Linked DNA regions of Homo sapiens. The protein of the gene in region 2 purifies or fractionates together with the protein of the main gene of each other region. This does not show direct contact. Each region holds a gene or a part of one and is shown on either strand. Other genes may lie near its edges.

The links.
Region 1: the proteins of DNAI2 (region 2) and EIF2A purify together in Homo sapiens (affinity purification with mass spectrometry; one large-scale study listed by BioGRID and IntAct). This does not show direct contact.
Region 3: the proteins of DNAI2 (region 2) and RAD51C purify together in Homo sapiens (affinity purification with mass spectrometry; one large-scale study listed by BioGRID and IntAct). This does not show direct contact.
Region 4: the proteins of DNAI2 (region 2) and MYO1D purify together in Homo sapiens (affinity purification with mass spectrometry; one large-scale study listed by BioGRID and IntAct). This does not show direct contact.

Annotation. Positions count from the first base shown.
Region 1 is NC_000003.12:150,553,287-150,556,786, forward strand, and holds part of EIF2A (eukaryotic translation initiation factor 2A), read left to right. Parts: intron 1-3,500. UniProt on the Homo sapiens protein: Functions in the early steps of protein synthesis of a small number of specific mRNAs. Acts by directing the binding of methionyl-tRNAi to 40S ribosomal subunits.
Region 2 is NC_000017.11:74,277,234-74,280,733, forward strand, and holds part of DNAI2 (dynein axonemal intermediate chain 2), read left to right. Parts: intron 1-3,500. UniProt on the Homo sapiens protein: Part of the dynein complex of respiratory cilia.
Region 3 is NC_000017.11:58,702,602-58,706,101, reverse strand, and holds part of RAD51C (DNA repair protein RAD51 homolog 3), read right to left. Parts: intron 2,907-3,500; coding exon 2,773-2,906; intron 225-2,772; coding exon of another isoform or gene 210-224; exon of another isoform or gene 85-209; intron 1-84. UniProt on the Homo sapiens protein: Essential for the homologous recombination (HR) pathway of DNA repair. Involved in the homologous recombination repair (HRR) pathway of double-stranded DNA breaks arising during DNA replication or induced by DNA-damaging agents.
Region 4 is NC_000017.11:32,758,625-32,762,124, forward strand, and holds part of MYO1D (unconventional myosin-Id), read right to left. Parts: intron 2,004-3,500; coding exon 1,858-2,003; intron 1,781-1,857; coding exon 1,666-1,780; intron 1,503-1,665; coding exon of another isoform or gene 1,488-1,502; exon of another isoform or gene 1,188-1,487; intron 1-1,187. UniProt on the Homo sapiens protein: Unconventional myosin that functions as actin-based motor protein with ATPase activity. Plays a role in endosomal protein trafficking, and especially in the transfer of cargo proteins from early to recycling endosomes.

The DNA.
Region 1 (3,500 bases), on a different chromosome or scaffold from region 2:
CACTCCAGCCTGGGCAAAAAGATGAGACTCCGTCTCAAAAAAAAAAAAAAAAAAAATTGGGAAACTAAAATAAGTGATTCTAGCTTTATATCAGGTTGGTGGCATAACCATGTGAAGACCTGCAAAATTCTTTTTTTTTGAGACTGAGTTTTGCCCTTGTTGCCCAGGCTAGAGTGCAGTGGTGCAATCTCGGCTTAATGCAACCTCTGCCCCCCAGGTTCAAGCGATTCTCCTGCCTCAGCCTCCCAAGTAGGTGGGATTACAGGTGCCTGCCACCATGCCTGGCTAATTTTTTTGTATTTGTAGTAGTGACAGAGTTTCACCGTGTTGGCCAGGCTAGTCTCAAACTCCTGACCTCAGGTGATCCACCTGTCTCATCCTCCCAAAGTGCTGGGATTACAGACGTGAGCCACCATGCCTGGCCTAATAGTTTTCTTTTTAACTGAAAGTTGATATTGTCATTTGAATCTACTATAGGATAGAGTAAATTAATTGTATTAATGTTGTTAGGCACCAAGATTTTTCAGCATTAGAGTGAAAAGATAGACTTGCCTATATCAGTATGAACTCATGATTTCCTTTCATAAAACATTTGCATTTCCTAGTTCTGGCCAATGAAAAGGCCTGGAAGCAGTGATAACACAGTAGCAGTGAATACCCCATCCTCACAGATTGTGATCTCTAAATACAATTCTTCACTAAAAGGAACCACTTCCTTGGAGAAGTGGTCAACTCTAGGTCTGGGACAGAAAATGTACAAGTTGAGGTAGCAACTTTTGTGCCAGAAAGCAAAGCTATAAAAGACTAATGAGATTTTGTTAAAGGGTCGTAGGAAGCAACTTGAAGAGATTCACACCAACCTAAGATGGGAACATTAAGAATTATGAATAGAAAGATAAAGCATGTCAAGTATATAAATGCTCCCCCGAAAAATCCCCCCTCCGTTTAAACCTAACTGGTCAGCATTGGTGGTTGATGGAGTCCTCACTCATTACTTTGAAAATTGATAAATAAAGGGAAGGAGTCAAGCATTTATCTTGCCTTTCTTATACAAACTGTTTCTCAGAGTAACCAAGTGGTTGATGAGAAAAAGAATTTTATAGACGAATTCCAGTTAATAAATGGAGAATGGATGCTGGATCAGACAATTACCATTTTGTAATCCTCAAGAAATGGATCTAGGCCACTGGTTCTCAAACTTTACCAAGCATCAGAATCATCTGAAAAGCTCGTTAAAATCCAGATTGCAGCTCTCTTTCCAAATGTTCGGATTCATTAGATCAGCGGTAGGGCCCAATAATTTGCATTTTTAACAAATTCCCCAGTGATACTGATGCTGCAAATCTGGGGACCCCCCTTTAAGAACCACTGATCTAGGCAGATGATCATCAAAAGATGCTGAAACCTTTAGCTGAACTGTTTGATGACTGTTAATGGGGAACTTTATAATCAGGCTGTTGTCATCTGACTCTACTGACCAATTTTTATTAGGCCCAGTTCTCTAGAACCTTGCTACAGGAAGCATGGGCCCAACCAAGACCAACTATATTGGCATCACTCCTGAGCCAGTACAGAAATGCATCTCAGGCCCTACCCAACTTACTGAATCAGAATCTGTATTTTAGCTAGATCTTCAGATGATTTATATGCACTTTTTTTTTTCCAGAGTCTTGCTCTGCTGCCCAGGCTAGAATGGAGTGGTGTAATCATGGCCCACTGTAGCCTCAATCTCCCAGGCTCAAACAATACTCCTGCCTCAGTATCCCAAGTAGCTGGGACTATAGGCGCATGCCACCATGCCTGGCTAATTTTTGTATGTTTTGTAGAGATGGGGGTCTCACTATGTTGCCCAGGCTGCTCTCCAACTCCTGGGCTCAAGAGATCCAACCGCCTTGGCCTCCCAAAGTGCTGGGATTACAGGCCTCAGCCACCATGCCTGGCCTGTATGCACATTATTTATTTATTTACTTATTTATTTATTTTTTTTGAGATGGAGTTTCACTCTTGTTGCCCAGGCTGGAGTGCAATGGTACAATCTCGGCTCACTGCAACCTCTGCTTCCTGGGTTCAAGCGATTCTCCTGCCTCAGCCTCCCAAGTAGCTGGGATTATAGGCACCTGCTACCACACCTGGCTAAATTTTTTTATTTTTAGTAGAGACGTGGTTTCACCATGTTGGCCAGGCTGGTCTCGAACTTCTGACCTCAGGTGATTCACCCTCCTTGGCCTCCCAAAGTGCTGGGATTACAGGTGTGAGCCACCACACCCGGCCATGTATGCACATTAATGTTTGAGAAGCACTACTCTAGAAAACCCAGTCTGGCTGGGCGCGGTGGCTCATGCCTGTAATCCCAGCGCTTTGGGAGGCCAAGGTGGGTGGATCACTTGAGCCCAGGAGTTCAGGATGAGCCTGGGCAGTATGGCAAAACCCCATATCTATTTAAAAAACAAAAAACAAAAAAAAAACTATGGCAAAGTTATGTGCTACACTTCATTAGGGTATGCAGTCCCAAGGCTGCAGGAGTAGGGGAGAAAGGGAAATGAGACAGGGAAGGAGTTAAAGCAAGTATGATGGGATATACTGAGGTGACCACAAATCCACAAAATATAGCCAACTTGCTTGGTCATGTGTGCAAAATTTTTGTCTCCAGAAAGGCTGTATGGAACATTTGTACTTCAGAACAGTCTGTTGTGTGGAGACAGGGTAAGAAGTTTACTACAGCCTCTTAGCCTGTTTGGGTTGAATCTGAGTGCCAGAGCTCCTCCATGTGCTGCCGCAGTGCATGGTGGAAGCCATGTGGAAGTATGGCCCTTAACTCTGCAGATTCAAAGACAACCAGTGGCGTTAGGAGATGAGGTCTCTTCATTGAATAGTTGAGGCGTGGCAGCAGGAAGAGTTAGGTAGATACAAGGAGGCACATGACTGAATCCAGTACAATCTCAGTATCACTAAGAGTAGAACAGAGAGATATTTATGTGTCTCCTGGTGAGTTATTATACAGTAGGAACTGTGCTGTACATATCTTCTACGAAAGTTAAAAAAACTTCAAACTCAGAATTTAGTCAGTCTTTTACATGAGTAGTTCTCAAATGTGGCTGCACAATAGAATGACCTGGGGAGCTGTTAAAAAACCCAGATATCCAATCCAAGTATTGGGTATTAAATGATATTAAGAAGTTAATTTTGTGAGATGAAGTGGCATGGTGGTGATTATGTTTTTAAAAAAATATACTCACTGGTTAGAGATGCATAATCAAGTATAGAGCAATATGATAATGACATCTAGTTTTTGCGTTGGAATGTTGTGGCATGAAAGATAAAAGTGGGGAATAGATAAAATTGGCTCTGAGTTAATAGTTACTTAAGCTTGATGATGAGTGCATAGGTGGATTATCATACTTTTTCTCTATTTTTTGTGTATGTTTGAAATTTTTCATTCAAAAAATTATACCAGAAGGAAAGAGGCAAAATTTCCCAATTGCCAAGACCAAGAAAATAAT
Region 2 (3,500 bases):
AAAATTAGCCGCGAATGGTGGCATGTGCCTGTAATCCCAGCTACGGGAGGCTGAGGCAGGAGAATCGCTTGCACCCGGGAGACGGAGTTTGCAATGAGCCTAGATCTTGCCACTGCACTCCAGCCTGGACGACAGAGCGAGAATCCATCTCAAAAAAAAAAAAAAAAAGAAAAAAGAAAAAAAGAAAGAAAATGCCACTTTCTGCAACAGTCTGGTTAAGGTTGAGTTGCTCTGGGGCTAGGAGTGGGATGGGGTGGTACTGTCTTCAAGACACAATGTATATGGATGCAAAGGGTTAACCTTCCTACCCTCCTTCTCCCCACCTGCTGCCCCAGCTGCTCCAGGGCCCAAGTTCCCCCTGGCACATGCTTCTAGGGGCACACAGCTCCTGCCCTGCCTCTCAGGGGCCAGCGGCCAGGACCCACTGGTCTGGTGCCTTGTAGCCCTGGAGGCGGGAGAGGGTAGGTAAGACACAGGTCTGGTAGTCATGTTCACCTAGGGTGATTGTGAAAAACACGAATTGCTAGGCCCTGCCCCAGGCATCTAGTTCAGCATTTGCAGGAGAGAGGCCTGGGAGTCTGTGTATTTTTAAGGAAGATCCCAGGTTTCAGAAACGCTGGTTGAGAGATTAAGTTCCCTCACTTTAAATCAATGGTCCTCAAAGTTGGCTACACATGGAATTGCCTGGAGAATTAAAGAAAAAAAGCATATACTGATGAGAGATTCTGATGTAGTTGTTCTGGGGTTCAAACAGCATTGTGATTTCACAAAGCCCTGCAGGTGTTTCTAAATGTGCAGTCAGGACTAACAATCACTGCTTTAGAGCCAGACATGCCTGGTGGTTCTGCCTGAACTGAAGAACTGTGACCTTTGGCCCTGTATTAATACTTCATCTCTCCAGGCCTCAGTTTCTTCATCTCGAAAATGGGCTCATGCCTATAATCCCAGCACTTTGGGAGGCTGAGGCAGGAGGATCACTTGAGCCCAGGAGTTTGAGACAAGCCTGGGCAACATAGTGAGACCCTCAACTCTACAAAAAAAAAAAAATTAGTCTGATGTGGTAGTGTCTGCCTGTGGTCCCAGTTACTCAGAAGGCTGAGGTGGGAGGATTGCTTGAGCCTGGGAGGTTGAGGCTGCAGCAAGCTGTGTTCATGCCACTGCACTCCAGCCTGGATGACAGAGCAAGACACTGTCTCATAAAAAGAAATGTTAGTGAGAATTGTGATCACTCTTTGGGAGTGGTGCTGGGCATGCAGGAAGCACGCCTGGAAACTGTTGTTCATAGTGCTTGCAACCTGGTCAGTCTTTACATATTCTGGATGCAAGTTCTTTATCAAATAGATAATTTGCAGATATTTTATCCAAGTCTGTGGCTTCTCTTTTTGTTAACATTGTTGGCCGGGCATGGTGGCGCATACCTGTAATCCCAGCTACTCTGGAGGCTGAAGCAGGAGAACCACTTGAACGCAGGAGGCGGAGGTTGCAGTGAGCAGATATGCCACTCCACTCCAGCATGGGTAACAAAATGAGATTCCATCTCAAAAAAAAAGAAAGAAAAGAAAAGAAAGAATGAATAAGACCTACTATTTGATAGGACAACAAGGTGACAACAGTCAGCAATAACTTAATTGTACATTTAAAAATAACTAACAGGCCGGGCGCGGTGGCTCACGCCTGTAATCCCAGCATTTTGGGAGGCCAAGGTGGGTGGATCATGAGGTCAGGAGATCGAGACCATCCTGGCTAACACGGTGAAACCCCATCTCTACTAAAAATACAAAAAATTAGCCGGGTGTGGTGGTGGGCACCTGTAGTCCCAGCTACTTGGGAGGCTGAGGCAGAAGAATGGCGTGAACCCGGGAGGCGGAGCTTGCAGTGAGCTGAGATCGTGCCACTGCACTCCAGCCTGGGTGACAGAGGGAGACTCCGTCTCAAAATAAATAAATAAATAAAAATAACTAACAAAGGATAAATTCTTGAGGGGATGGATACCCCATTCTCCATGATGTGACTATTAATATCTAGTATTTGATAGCACAACAGGGTGACTATAGTCAAAATAATTTAATTATACATTTAAAAATAGCTGAAAGAGTATAACTGGATTGTTTGTAACACAAAGGATAAATGCTTGAGGGGATGGATGGATACCCCATTTCCCATGATTGTATATTGTATATTGCATGCCTATAGCAAAACATCTCCTGTGCCCCATAAATATATACACCTACTATGTAACCACAAAAATTAAAAATTAAAAAAAAATAGCAAAACCTGCTCACAGGCAAACCTGCTCACGTAATCCTGTTTTTGAGATAGAGTCTTGCTCTGTCATCCAGGCTGGAGTGCAGTGGCACAATCTCGACTCACTGCAACGTCTACCTTCCAGGTTTAAGCGATTCTCCTACCTCAGCCTCCTGAGTAGCTGTGATTACAGGCACGTGCCACCATGCCTGGATAATTTTTGGTATTTTTAGTAGAGATGGGTTTTCGCCATGTTGGCCAGGCTGGTCTTGAACTCCTGACCTCAAGTGATCCACCGGCCTCGGCCACCCAAAGTGCTGGGATTATAGGCATGAGCCACAATGCCCGGCCTAATCTCTTGGGCGTTGAAAGGCCTTTGGTTGTAAATCTACCAAGGCAAGCTCTCCTTCAGTTTATCTTCCTCCCACCAGCACCAGCCACTCATCCACATCTTTTGTCCTAAGGCTCTGTGCAACCCCAGGAGCCTTGCACAGATCCTCAATCTGAGCCCCTGGAAACTTGCTATCAAAGGCACAATTTCTGAAAGTGCAGGTGGCTGGCAGACGGAAATCTCTGCTAATTCCATGGTGTGATATGGCAGGTACACAGGTCAAAGCGCCAACCACTGAACTCATTGAGAAAGCCCTCAGACCCAGTGGAGTCTAGTGATGTCATGGGGGAGTCAGAAAGGTCAAGGGCAATATGTGGGAATGGCCCAGCCCATTGCATTTTTACAACTTCTAATCAGCATCAGTGAGAAACCCTTCCTTGCGTGGCCTGTGAACCCCGCCTCTGATGCTGCTGGAGCACTTTCATTTCACTTCTCAGCATCCTGTGGGTGTGTCAGGTCTCAGAAAGACTAAGTGGCCCTGCCTAGGTCACGCAGCTGGTGACGGGAGGCCCAGAACTTGAAATCAGGGCCGAGCCCAGCCCACTTCCCAATTCCCTGCTGTGTCCCATGACCAGTAGCACGCGTCAGAGGCTTTCCCAAAGGCCTCCATGTCCCGCCTGTTGGGGAAGCCCCTGGCTTTCTCTCTGTCTGGGATTGACTCTCAGCTCTGTCCTGGTTGGAGAGAAGAGATTTCCAGGATGGTACCCAGACAGTGGTGGAGGCCAGAGTCTGGCAACCAACGAGCCTTTTGGACAATTGGGTGGGGAGTTGGGTCATTGGGTTGGAGAGGAGGGGTTCAAGAAGAGGCCCAGGGGTCTCAAATCTGTGTCCTGTGTGTTTCATGCCCAGCATGGCAGGGAATTTA
Region 3 (3,500 bases), about 16 Mb from region 2:
TGCTAGGCACCCATAATCCTTTTGGGAATGTTCATCCTATGCATTTCCTACTATTGTATTTTGAAAGCATATAACTTGCCTGATTTCAAACGTTCACAGCTGGAAGGGAATTTCACTTCAGGATGAATTATAACTTGAGTCTCACCAATCTCTGATTTAGATAATATTTAGATGAAGCCTGGGACTTTTAGAGTTGATGATGGAACCGGTTAAGACGTTTGGGGCTGTGTGGATGGAATGGATACAAGAAAAACATGAATTTGGCGGGCAGGTAGGGGGTAGGGGGGCAAGGGGCCAGGGGCAAACTTCTGGGAACTCAATTATGTCCCCTTAAAATTCGTATGTTGAATCCCTAAACCCCAATGTGAATGTATGTGGAGAAAGGACTTCTAAGGAAGTAATCAAATAAGTTCATAAAGATGGGACCCTAATCTAAGATGATTAGCGTCCTTGTAAGAAGAAATATTAGGGGTCAGGCACGGTGGCTCACGCCTGTAATCCCAGCACTTTGGGAGGCCGAGGTGGGCGGATCACAAGATCAGGAGATCGAGAACATCTTGGCCAACATGGGGAAACCCTGTCTCTACTAAAAATACAAAAATTAGCCAGGCGTGGTGGCATGCGCCTGTAGTCCCAGCTACTCTGGAGGCTGAGGCAGGAGAATCGCTTGAATCCGGGAGGTGGAGGTTGTAGTGAGCTGAGATCACGCCATTGCACTCCAGCCTGGGTGACAAAAGCGAAACTCCACCCCCCCCCCAAAAAAAAGAAAAAACACCAGGGAATTCACTCTCTCCTTCTTTTCCTCCCTATCATATGAGGACACAGAGAAAAGATGGCTGTCTGCAAGCCAGGAAGAAAGCCCTTGCCAGAAACTGAATCAGCTAGAACTTTGATCTTGAACTTTTAGGCTCCAGAACTCTAAGAAAATTAATTTCTATTGTATTTATTTATTTAATTTTTATTTATTAATTTTGAGACAGAGTCTCTCTGTCTCCCAGGCTGGAGTGCAGTGTCACGATCTCAGCACACTGCAACCTCTGCTTCCCAGGTTCAAGCGATTCTCCTGTCTCAGCCTCCCAAGTAGCTGGGATCACAGGTGCATGCCAACACACCAGGCTAATTTTTGTATTTTTAGGTAGAGACGGGGTTTTGCCATGTTAGTCAGACTGGGCGACTCAAAAAAAAAATTAATTAATTAATTAAAATAAATAAAATAACAAAGAGATGGCATTTTCCATGCAGAATCTTGGCAAAAATATTCAAAAGGTCAGGATGATGGGTAATAGGCATTCTCATATATTGTCAGTAAGAGTAGAAATTGGTGCAGTCTTTCTGAAGGGCGATATGTGTTCAAGAAAAAATTATTCTAACACTTCTTAAAACAGTAAGGAGACTGTATTCAAGACTATTCTAATAGGGGTATCACAATAGGGGAGAGAGACTGGGTTCAAATCAGAATACAAGGACAACTGGGGATTCACAACCAAGAGCAAGGTGAAGGGGTCAGTGGATGAACAATTACTAACAGTGAGACATCAAGGGTAGGGAAATTCTTGCTAAACTGACCGAACAGGATTCTTACTAATGGCAGGCCAGCCAGGTGAGCAGCCTGGCCAACATGCAAAACCCTGTTTCTACCAAAAATATAAAAAAAAAAAAAAATTAGCCAGGCGTTGTGGCGCATGCCTGTAGTCCCAGCTACTTGGGAGGCTGAGGCAGGAGAATTGCCTTAACCCGGGAAGCAGAGGTTGCAGTGAACCAAGATCACGCCAATGCACTCCAGCCTGGGCGACAGAGCCAGACTCCATCAAATTAAAAAATAAAAAATAAATAAATAAAGGCAAGCCAAGGATTTAAATATCAAAGGTGGGGAATGAGGAACGTGATCAGGTATCAAAGGTGCTCAGACTATCAAATGTGAGAGAATCTCTCTGAACTGACAGCAGGATTCTTTGCTAAGACTGGACTGGGTAGGCCAAAGACAGGATGGGGCCAAGTTCAGTCAAGGAGAATCTTTGTCACTGATAATGTTTACCAAAATTAAAGGGCCAGGCACAGTGGCTCATGCCTATAATCCCAGCACTCTGGGAGGCTGAGGTGGGAGAATCGCTTAACCCCAGGAGTTGACTCCATTTCTACCCAAAAAAAAAAAAAAAAAAAAAAAAAAAGGTGATACATGATGGCACGGTAGCTCAATGTAGCCTTGAACTGCTGGGCTCAAGCAATCCTCCCACCTCAGGCCTGCTCCACCCAGCCCTTGGTAGCTGAGACTACAGCTACACCACACACGGCTAATTTTTTTTTTGGTGGGGACAATGTCTTACTATGTTGCCCAGGCTGGTTTTGAACTACTGGGCTCAAATGATCCTCCCACCATGGCCTCCCTAAGTGCTGGGATTACAAGTATGAGCCACTGCACCTGGCCAATAGTGATCACCTTTGGGGAGAGGCACTAGAAAACAGTAGCACAAGGAAGTTTTTATTTTTCATTTCATACCTTTCTATACAATGTGGTTTGATAGGAGCTATTCCACTATTACTGGAAATGAAACTTCTATATTATTTCAATTTCTTACTCTGAGCATAAACTATATATACATATACATACACAAAACAAATATAAATATAAATAAATTGTAGGTCAAGGAAGGAAGAGATTTTCTCAATTGGCTTTGACTTTGATTTTATGCTACTGTACTGGTTATTTTTTCATGCTTATCAAACACCTCAAAAAATACTTGGTTAGTTACATTTCAGTAGTCTGACTCATACCTTTGAGTGTTCTGAAAGGAAATCTGGAAGAAGATAAACTTGTGCCAGTAACTCTGTGTAGTCACGACAGCGAAAATAATAAATATGAGAAAGAATATTATCAAGAGTGAAATCCTCCAAAGCTTTTCGGTGTTCTGAAACAACAAAACACTCTTAATTAGTTTTACCTGTTTGGATGTATTGGCAATTGTAGAAAAACAATGCTTTTTAATAACAAAATGTTCTCCTTTGGATAACAAAATTCTTTAACTGAAAGATGACAAATTATAGCAAAATTACTATAAACAGTTCATAATTCCTGATCTTTTAATTAAAGTTCTAGGGTACATGTGCACAACGTGCAGGTTACATATGTATACATGTGCCATTTTGGTGTGCTGTACCCATTAACTCGTCATTTATATTAGGTATATCTCCTAATGCTATCCGTCGCCGCCCCCCACCTGATGTCTCTCTTAATCTGTTTAGAGATAAGGTCTCACTCTGACGCCCAGGCTGGAGCACAGTGGCACAATCATAGCTCGCTGCAACCTCGAATTCCTAGGCTCAAGGGATCCTCCTGCCCCAGCCTCCCAAAGCACTGGGATTACAGGCATAAACCACTGTGCCCAGCCACTTGATTTTTTTTTTTTTTTTTTAGATAAAGTCTCACTCTGTCACCCAGGCTGGAGTGCAGTGATGCGATCTTGGCACACTGCAACCTCTGCCTCCTGGGCTCAAGCGACTGT
Region 4 (3,500 bases), about 42 Mb from region 2:
GTACGTGTTAAAGCCAGGTGATGGGTATATAGGGTTTACTGTACTATAGTCTGTCTTCTTAATGTGTGTTTAAAATTTTCCATAATAAAAAATCTTTTAAAAAGAATCACTATGTTTAGAAGTTTGGGGTTTTACCCAGAATAGAGATTCTAATTGTGGGGGGATCTGCCATGTAGTAAGTAACTGTTACCTTGGAGTTAGCCTTCTGCTCCCTCTAGGACAAATAGTTCTTGGTTTATTTAGCGAAAATTTTTTGCATTTTGGGATTCTTAATTCTTTTTGAGATGTTTGGAACAGTCCACTGCATTACTTACCCTGTTGTCAATTATGTCTGTGAAATTTGATATTCTGATTGTGAAAGGATATTTTTGACTAGTACCTTGGAATCACATTTGAATAACAAGTTTTATGATTAAATTTGGTATTAAAAATCCAAGCTTCAGTTATACCGTGTATTATATTATACAACAGTTTCATTCTTAGAAAGCTTCATATACACTTAATTGAACTGAATTAAATTTTAATTGTATTAGGAGAGTTCATTATTTAAGTCAAACTATAGATAATTCTTATATAAAATAGCCCTTTGGTTTATATGCAGATAGGTAAAATTTATGCCAATATACCTGAGCAACTGTTTTATGGTATTCTAACGTTTAACACATGATGGAAGGCAGATACAATTTTGAGGCGGGAAAGCTATTTGTTATATCACTGTCTCTTTATTTCAGAATGAGAGGAAATAGAAAATAGGTAGGAAGGAAGATAAAAGTCATTTAAATATAGTATTTCAAATATTTTTTTGCTGCTATTATATTGGATAACAAAAAACAAATACTGGCTTCATTTCTATTCTCTGGCAAGAGGATGAACAATCATATAAACTCAAACTACAGAAACTTAAAAGTTTTTGTATTTTTCAAGTTTATTCTCAAAATTGCTTAAAAATACAAACTTACAAGAAAAATTACTATGTCTCATTTCTATCATAAACAGAAGGTCTTATCACAGGAAATTTAAAAACCAAACAAGTCATGCCTTTTAGCTTTGATCTCTGTGGTTTGCACTGTGCACCCATTATACTTTCCAGCTATATCTTACCAGATTAGTTTGCCTCTGACAAATACAAAAGTTCCCAAAGATTGATTAGAGTAGAGGTGATAATTGAAGTGTAATACACAAGAAAATGCAAAGTAAAACAAGTATTTTAATGTGTAGGTTTCAGAGAATATAAACAACATTAACTGAAGACAATAAAATACCATATAGTCTACAAAGTAGAAGAGGAGAAAAAGGAGGAAAAAGGGAAGAAGAAACTAGATTCTGAAGCAAAGTTCAGCCAATTTAAGGTATAACTTAATAAAGTATGCTAAACCTAACAGACAGATATAAACCAGTAAGTCCACGTGGTAGCAGCCATAAAGTGAAAACAGGTTTACTGGTTCTAACTCAGGATGTTCTGGGCATCAACAAGGCAGTCTATCAAATTATAGCAATCCCACCTAAAAATGATGAAATTAATTGTATTTACATATCCCAAAAAGGAAAGCTAAGGTTCAGATGTTTCAAATACCCCCAAAAGATCAAGAAATACCTAAAATAAAATTTGACATTATCAATAATATGAGAAACACATGAAGGCATTTTCCATAAGAGTCCACTCACATGTTTCCAGGGGATCCCTTCCCGCTGGTATTCCTCTTGTTCTTGCTTCAGAACCAGCTGAATAAATAGCTGCTGCAGTTTCTCATTGCAGTAATTGATACAGAATTGTTCAAAACTACAAGAAAAGGAATAAATTAAGTTTCAACAAATAGAAAACAGGCAACAAGGTTTTAAGTATCTTTTCCAGTTTACCTGTTGTTGTCAAAGATTTCAAAGCCATAGATATCCAAGACACCAATAACAGTGTTTTTCCCATGGATTGTGGTGTCATAGTTCTTGACCTCAATAATATCATTGATGCGAGTAACGATCCAACAAAAAAGGCGCTCATATATTGCCTGCAAGGAAAATAGCATCATAAATGCTTGCCAATTTGGGAATGAGTCCTCTGTTTGGATTTGTGATCAGTTTTAAATTCCTGTCCACCTTCTCACTGTTTAGCATAGCCATTACTGGCCTCAGCAGAACAAATGAAAATGTAGACTGTCCATTTAAAAAAACCCAAACTACCTGATGTATGCAAAACTAAAGTAAATAGCTTGTATTTTTAAAAGATTATTACCGGTCATTATACCAATTCCAACGACACTCTCCAGGCATGTTTCCCTGCCCGGCTATATCAATAGTTTGCCTGATCCCTTGAATAAGCCAGTTCATTGCTTTATTATTAATTTCATCAACTATAAAGAGTTGAGAGCTAGTGAGTTAATATCTATGATCCACTAAAGCTATATGAATTCTAAAAAATATAAATATTGATTTCTAATGCTAAATGAAGATCTGAGCCAAAGATCAAGGGTTGAAATTCCCTGAGAATCGAACACACATCCAATGCACAAGAACACACACACTAAGCCACACATGGACAAAGGTGCCACACGCTAACACACATTCACATCCCGATACACATGTGCTCTGCAACGTCACATCGTTAGAAAACCTTCCTTAACGTCTCCTGCCAGCTACCCACTCTCTTCACCCATATCCATTACCTCCCCTTTACTCTTCAATCCACTCCAGTCTCCACTTACATCCTATTACTCCATTGAAATGGCTCATCAAAGACTCCCAGCACCTCTACATAGATACTTCTCGTACCTCATATGGACATCTTGCTCTGTCGCTCAGCATCACTCAACCTAGGTTTTCACTGCCTTCTTGGAACACTCTTCTCTCTGGATTTCGGATAATAGCCTTTCTGAATTTTACTCTTTGTTCACTGGATGTTCCTTTTTGGTGACCTTTGGTAGAGTCTCCTCTTCTACCTGACTTGTAAAAGTTGGAGTTCTTCCTGGTCCTCTTCTCTTCACTCTCTAGCACCTTCTAAATCATCTCACCCAGGATTAAATAATACAAATATAATATGACTCCCAAAAGTATTATCCAAATCCAGACTCAGAGAACAGTCTCTGAGCTCCTGACTCAAGAGCTTGACTGTCTACCTGACACTGACTCTTCAATGGCTCACAGCCATCTCAAACTCAAAGGACTCTTGATCTTTCCTCTTCCAACAACTGTTCCTATCCTACTTTTAGCCACAAATAAATAGCACCACTTAGAAATTCACTGATTTATTCAACAAATATTTGCTGAATACTTATTATATATAGTTTGTTAGAGATACAGGTCTAGGCAAACACAAACATAGTCTCAATGTCCAAGAAACTTAGGGAATAGAGTGAAGGAAAAAATTATTCTCTCTGTCTCTCTCACTTGCCCCCCACCTCGCAGATAAACATCCACACTAAAGGAGAGGTACATGGGGTCTTAGGGAAATTTAATCTATGCAGTGCTCAGGAAGGTTAGGGAAGGCCTCTCTGGGAAAGTGATACTTG